Linked DNA regions of Homo sapiens. The protein of the gene in region 2 purifies or fractionates together with the protein of the main gene of each other region. This does not show direct contact. Each region holds a gene or a part of one and is shown on either strand. Other genes may lie near its edges. The genes, in order: OSCP1 and USP16.

Region 1 (3,822 bases), on a different chromosome or scaffold from region 2:
CATACATGAAAGATCAGAAGGGAGGAACTGGTGGGGACCAAAGTGGTGAAGGCAGGCTTTGTGGTACAAGTGGCCTTATATAGCCCTCGAGGCAGCTGCAGGATTTAAATTGGCTGAGGGCAGAGGAAAGACATTCCAGTTGAGGGAAACAGTACATGTGAGGGCCTGGAGGCAGCAATGAGTATGTTATTTTTCTGGGAGAAAGAGGAGAATGGCCTGAGGACAGTTTGTGTTGGGGATGGCAGGTAATAAAGCTGGGTAAGTATGGCAAATGAAGATGGCAACAATAGAAACTGGGGACTGCAAGAATGGGGAGGGAGGGAGGGAGGTAGGGGTCAAGGGCTGAAAAACTAACTATTGGGTACTATGCTGACTACCTGACTGATGGGCTCACTTGTACCCCAGACCTCAGGATCACGCAATATACCCATGTAACAAACCTGTGCATGTACCTCCTGAATATAAAATAAAAGCTGAATTATTAAAAATAGAATAAAGTTTTTGGGGAGATACACAATATAATTTAGACTAGATGTAGTAGAAGTTAGGGGGTTAAAGTTTTCTGGGCTGACATGATCAAAGTGGTGACTGAACGAGATCTGGCAATGATGAGCTGTGACAGAAGGGAGAGACTAGTTAGGGGGAGTAGCTAGCACCTGGTTCCTGAAAAGATTACAATAAATATCTACTGATTGCATGAATGAAAGAAATGTTGTTGGAGCAATCCAGACTTAAGGCCTGGAAAAAAGATAGTGGGAACGGAGAAGTCAGGGAAAGGAAGATCACGCGATATTTAGAAGGAAAAGCTGTCAGTAGGTGGTGACTGCCTAGATTTGGGGGATGATGATCAGGGTTGTCCAGAAGGACTGCACCTTTTCAGCCTAGTGCGGGTGGGGAGGGATGATGCTATTGATGGAGGAAAAGACGTCTGAGGGATGTGGGAGCGGAAGAGCCAGGAGAGAAGATGGACGGTTAACTTAAGGACATGTCTGGGGCAGGATTGAAACGATAAACAACTACCATCTGAGTGTCATGCCAAGCACGTGTATATATATTACCTCATTTGATCCCATTTATTCTTCACAAGAACTCTATGAGGTAGGTATTAGCCCAGTTTAATAATGAGGAAACTTGCCTAATTTCATATTGCTGGTAAGTGCAGAATGATATTTGACCTCAAGACTATCAGATTCTAAGGCACTTGCCAGGACCCTGCTACACAATCCCATTTCTCCTACCTGCAGCCAAACATTTCCACTTAGAAGGTGGCATACAACCAGAATAGCTAGCCAGATGCAGTGGCTCACGCCTGTTATCCCAGCACTTTGGGAGGCCGAGGTGGGTGGATCACCTGAGGTCAGGAGTTCGAGACCAGCCTGGCCAACATGTTGAAACCCCATCTCTACTAAAAATACAAAAATTAGCCGGGTGTGGTGGTGCGTGCCTGTAATCTCAGCTACTCAGGAGGCTGAGACAGGAGAATTGCTTGAACCTGGGAGGCAGAGGTTGCAGTGAGCCGAGTTAGTGCCACTGCACTCTAGCCTGGGTGACAGAGTGAGACTTTGTCTCAAAAAAAAAAAAAAAAAAAAAAGAAATTAAAACAAGCCCCAGAAAACAGGAATAGCCTGGTGTGTGTGCATGGGGATTGGGAAAGTACAATACTGGAGATACAGATTTGAGACTCTGCCATCATTGTCAAACATTAAGTGCTCGTATATAGGAAACCATGCTAGAAATAAAGAATAAAAACAGGTATAAGATGAAGGAATGCCAGTTCAGAGTAATTCAGTAAATTGGGTCTCACAGCTAGTAACTGGTAGAGCTAAGGCTTAAACTCAGCTTTTTTAATTCTAAGTTCTGTGTCCTTCCTCTATGGAAATTTAAACTTCCTTTTCTTTTCTTTTCTTTTTCTTTTTTTTTTTTTTTTTTTTGACATGGGGGTCTCACTCTGTTACCCAGGCTGGAGTACAGTGGCGTGAACACAGCTCACTGAAGCCTCAACCTCCCCTGCTCAAGCTATCCTCCTGTCTCAGCCTCCTGAGTAGCTGGGACTACAGTTGTGTGCCACTGTGTGACCAGCTAGTTCTTCTAATTTTTAGTAGAGATGAGGTCTCACTATGGTTTTTTTTTTAATATGTTAAAAAATATTAGAGACGGGTTTTTGCTATGTTGCCCAGGCTGGTGTTGAACTCCCAGGCTCAAGTGATTCTTCCACCTGGGCCTCTCAAAGTGCTGGGATTACAGGTGTGAGCTACTGTGCTCAGTCTCTAAACTTTTTTAAAGGCAGAGAGAGAAGAGCAAGCAGAACTGAAAATATAATTAATATTTATTGAACAGCTATATGCCAGGCCTAGGTATGTTTCTCACTTAATTATCCTAATAATTGATGAAGTAGCATTTATTATCCTCATTTTACAGATGAGAAAATGAAGGCTCAGAGAGTTAAAGTAACTTTTTTTTTTTTGTTTTGAGACAGAGTTTTGCTCTTTTTGCCCAGGCTGGAGTGCAATGGCGCGATCTTGGCTCACTGCAACCTCTGCCTCCCGGGTTCAAGCAATTCTCCTGCCTCAGCCTCCCAAGTAGCTGGGATTACAGGCACTTGCCACCATGCCCAGCTAATTTTTTGTATTTTTAGTAGAGACGGGGTTTCACCATGTTGGCCAGGATGGTCTCGATCTCTTGACCTCGTGATCCGCCTGCCTCGGCCTCCCAAAGTCCTGGGATTACAGGCATGAGCCACCGCGCCTGGCCGAGTTAAAGTAACTTTCCAAAGGTAAGTGGCAAGAGGTAAGAGGGCCCAGTTAAAGGCAGTCTGTCTCCCTGAGTCTTCTAAGTACCAGTAATAAGTGAGTGCTGACTCTGCAAGTCTAACTCCCACCATCAGTCATCATGATTTTTAAAATTTTTCTTTCTCTCTCTCTCTATTTTTTTTTTTTTTTTTGAGATGGAGTCTTGCTCTGTCCCCCAGGCTGGAGTGCAGTGGCGTGATCTCAGCTCACTGCAAGCTCCGCCTCCCAGGTTCACGCCATTCTCCTGCCTCAGCCTCCCGAGTAGCTGGGACTACAGGCGCCCACCACCACACCGGGCTAATTTTTTTTTTTTTGTATTTTTAGTAGAGACGAGATTTCACCATGTTAGCCAGGATGGTCTCGATCTCTTGACCTCATGATCCACCCGCCTCAGCCTCCCAAAGTGCTGGGATTACAGGCGTGAGCCACCGCGCCCGGCCCTCTCTATTTTTTTAGAGACAGGGTCTTGCTATGTTGCCAAGGCTGGTCTTGAACTCCTGGGCTCAAGCGATCCTCCTGCCTTGGCCTCCCTAAGTGCTGGGATTACAGGCATACGCCATTACACCTGGTCTTTTAAAATTTTTTTGTAGAGATTTGGTCTTGCTGTGTTGCCCAAGCTGGTGTTGAACTCCTGGCCTCAATCCCAAAGCACTGATATTAGAGCTGCAAGACACTGTGCCTGGTAGTCCTCTTTCACATGGTGGGAGAAGTTGTAAAGGAATTATTATTATATTTTACATTAACTAAAGACCAAACTTTAAAGATTTCATTAGTTTCCCCCTGACATCCTATTTCTGTTCTGAAATCCCATCCAGGACACCACATTCTATTCTGCTGTCCTGTGTCCTTGGGCTCCTCTTGGCTGGACAGTTTCTCTGACTCTCCTTGACTTTGGTGACCTTGATAGTTTTGAGTACTGGTCAGGTATTTTGTAAGCATGACCAACCAACAGTATTTGTGTGATGTTTTTCTTATGGTTAGCCTGGGGTTTGGAGTTTTGGGGAGGAAGACCACAGAGGTGAAGTTCCATTTT
Region 2 (3,822 bases):
TGCCCTCACTGCCAAAGATCAAGGTACTACTCATTCCCCCAGGTGCTGAGAATGTGGCCGGCTGAGAGCTCACAGTCTAGTCCATCCATCCCCAGGAATCAGTCTCAACAAAAGGGAGCTGCCTTGCCCAAGGTTACTTCCTGCTCTAGGGGCAGGCCACATCCAATGACTGGTCTATGCACAGGTAGAAAGGTCTAGCTCCTTGCCTCAATTCAGGCAAGAGATCACTGTGGGATTGGCTGAGACCCTGTTGCCACTGCCTCTTCATTCAACTTCTCCCTATGCTTAATCTTGCTTCCCTTACTTTTACTGGTGTGGTACCAGAGAACACTCCACCACCTATACACACATCTCAGAACTGGTTCTCCAGAGAACATGATCTATGTTACTAGTATCCTTTTATCCATACTGTACTTTCAGGTAATACCTTCTAAAGTAAGTTCAAAGAGTTTTCTAAAATCCCATATTGATCTTAAAACGTAAGCATACCTGATGGCCACATTTAAGACACAGCCAAACTGAAGGCTTTTCTTCTGTTTCTTCTTCAGCTTTATCTTTCACTTTATTGTCAGTCTTACAGTCTTGGCAGATATTCCATTCCACATTCACTAAAGCCTTTTTCAAATTACCTTGTTCCAATCCTTTTCTAATGTGTCTGCACACAGGTTCTATTAAAACAAATAATAGACAAGGAATATATAAGGTCAAAAATGACTTTCTTCAGTTAATCTCAAAACTTACCCTCGATTCACATTTCAAAAATGAAATTTACTCTATAAACTGTTAAGATATTCTGAACTTAAAATTGTTTGATATTTGAATAATATGAGATAAATATGTGAGAAAGAGATTTGACACAAATTTGTGAAGTTTCGCTTTCTTGAAGTCCTAAATATAACCACCACTGTCCCCCACTACAAATTCATTTCAATTTATTTGGCTATTTCCTTTAAATTAAGGCCCTTTATCATACTTATGATTCTCTTTATCTTTAAAGATTTGTAGAAAACGTCCTTCATTTAGTCAATAATACACCTACTATAGGGCAGGCACTGTGCTAGACGCTCAGGAGCCCAAAATTGACCAAGTCACAGCTGTTTTCTTTGAGTAGCTCACATTCTGGAAGGAAAGGCAGCTAAATAAATTAATGTATAAGAATCTCCGAAACATGGTATAGCAGCACAAGCAGAGAAGGCTAAAGTCACCAAAAGTTTCACAGGGGAGGTAACATCTGTGCAATCCTAGAAGATAATAATAGTAATAAAAATTGCTGATATTAATTAAATATGTCCTATGAACTTTGTTAAATGTTTTGAATACATTATCCCATTTAATCCTTACAATCACCCTAGAAGACACTATTATTCCCAATGACAAATGAGAAAACTAAGATTTAGTACCCACATAACTACTGAGTATCTATGCCAGAATTTAGACTCAAGTCTTTCAGACTTCATAGCTCACACTTTAAACTGCGACCTCAGGGAGTGAAGGGCAATCTGAAAATGCCCATGCCAAGAACAAAAACATGTGAAAGTGCATGCTGTCTCCCCAGATGATGGAGTTACACAATGTGCAAAAATGAGCAGTTGAACCTGAGGCTGAAAACTCTGTTGGGGCCAAGATAAGTAAAGAGCTTTGCAAACCACTCTACAGTGCTGAGTTGTTCCAGGAACACTGGAGGTTTAGAAACTAGTCAAGTGGCATAATTAGCTTTATGTCCAATGATCTTGCACCAAGAAAAGAAATATAAATGCAAATGGGATCAGGTGGAAAAACTACCAAATCTCAGTAGTCAAAGAAATACAAACTAGAAAAAGAAGGTACCCTTTTTTTTCTTTTTTCTTTTTGAGACGGAGTCTTGCTCTGTTGCCCAGGCTGGAGTGCAGTGGCACAATCTCGGCTCACTGCAAGCTCCGCCTCCCAGGTTCACGCCATTCTCCTGCCTCAGCCTCCCAAGTAGCTGGGACTACAGGCGCCCGCCACCACGCCCAGCTAATTTTTTGTATGTTTAGTAGAGACGGGGTTTCACCGTGTTAGCCAGGATGGTCTCGATCTCCTGACCTCGTGATCTGCCCGCCTTGGCCTCCCAGAGTGCTGGGATTACAGGCGTGAGCCACCACACCTGGTCAGAAGGTAACCTTTTTTAACTACCAAATCAGCACAGATGTTTACAGATGATACTAACCAGTGCCGATGAAGGTTCAGGGAAATGGGCACTTTACTACGCTAATAGGGGGCCTGGAAATTAGTAAAACATTTCTGGATGGCAATTTAGCAACAGGATCAAAAGAGTCTTAAAAATGTTTACACCCTTCGATTCAAAAATTATGTATGTGTATTAGGAAAATATTTGGATGTACAGAGAGATTTAGCTATAAAGTTGTTTACTACTGAGCCATTCATAATACTAAAAAGTTAAAGATTACCTAAATCTGTAACAGTAGAAAATTATCTAAATAAATTATGAAATATACATCCATGGTCTTTGCTAAATGCAATAATATGCCATTAAAAATGTTGTTGAAGGTCGGGCGCGGTGGCTCACGCCTGTAATCCCAGCACTTTGGGATGCTGAGGAAGCGGATCACTTGAGGTCAGGAGTTCAAGACCAGCCTGGTCAACATGGTGAAACCCTGTCTCTACTAAAAATACAAAAATTAGCTGGGTGTGGTGGAGCACACCTGTAATCCCAGCTACTCATGAGGCTGAGACAGGAGAATCGCTTGAACCCTCAAGGCAAAGGCTGCAGTGAGCTGAGATCACACTACTGCACTCCAGCCTGGGCAACAGAGCCAGACTCCGTCTCAGGAAAAAAAACAAAAAAGATGTAGAAAGTCAGGTGCAGTGGCTCTCACGTGTAATCCTAGCACTTTTGGAGGCCAAGGCAGGCGGATCACTTGAGGCCAGGAGTTCAAGACCAGCCTGACCAACACAGGGAAACCCCGTCACTATTAAAAAAAAAAAAAAAAATTAGCTGGCTGTGGTGGGATGTGTCTGTAATCCCAGCTACTCAGAGGCTGAGGCACGAGAGAACCGTTTGAACCTGGGAGGCGGAGGTTGCAGTGAGCTGAGATTGCACCACTGCACTCCAGCCTGGGCAACAGAGCGAGATTCTTTCTCAAAAAAAAAAAAAAAAGTAGAAGACTATTAAATGACATATAGATACAAACATTATATTAAAATGCAGATAATATAACAATAATATGCAGCTTTATACCATTTTTACATTTTAAAACATATTCATTTAGAGATATAAACATTAAAGATTCAATCAATGAAATATACCTAAAGTTTCAGAGGAATCATCGATTGGAACAGTTTTTCCCTTTGTCCGTTTCTTTCCCATGTTGGCACTTTATGGATTACTTACTGACACAAAATAACAATCTAGAAAACAAGATAAAGTTAGCTTGACCAAAAAAAAAAGTATGTCTTATATTTCTCTAGGAGACAGTAATATAACTAAGCCACGTATATTATGCATGTCTATCACATTGTAATTTACAAAGACCAATCACATATAATCATCTAATTTTCAACAGGAACTCAAGTAGATAGAATAGTTATCTCCCGTTTTTCATAGCATAGGAAAGTGATTCTTAGCAAGCTTAAGAGGTTTTCAATATATGTAAAGGTCAGGAGAGAACCTTGGTCATCTTACACAGATCTTGAACAGTCTCAGAACTTGATACTCTTAGGAAGGTGACTCCTCACTACATACATGTGAAATAATGGCAGCACTTTAATCAGAAAACTGATTTGCTTCCCTTCTAAGCTACCTTTCTTAGCTCTGCAGTCTATGCAAATTAAACTGATAAT

Evidence for each region.
Region 1: the proteins of USP16 (region 2) and OSCP1 purify together in Homo sapiens (affinity purification with mass spectrometry; one large-scale study listed by BioGRID and IntAct). This does not show direct contact.

What each region holds. Positions count from the first base shown.
Region 1 is NC_000001.11:36,433,181-36,437,002, forward strand, and holds part of OSCP1 (protein OSCP1), read right to left. Parts: intron 2,774-3,822; exon of another isoform or gene 2,619-2,773; intron 1-2,618. UniProt on the Homo sapiens protein: May be involved in drug clearance in the placenta.
Region 2 is NC_000021.9:29,027,441-29,031,262, reverse strand, and holds part of USP16 (ubiquitin carboxyl-terminal hydrolase 16), read right to left. Parts: intron 3,391-3,822; 5' UTR 3,350-3,390; coding exon 3,289-3,349; intron 669-3,288; coding exon 490-668; intron 1-489. UniProt on the Homo sapiens protein: Specifically deubiquitinates 'Lys-120' of histone H2A (H2AK119Ub), a specific tag for epigenetic transcriptional repression, thereby acting as a coactivator.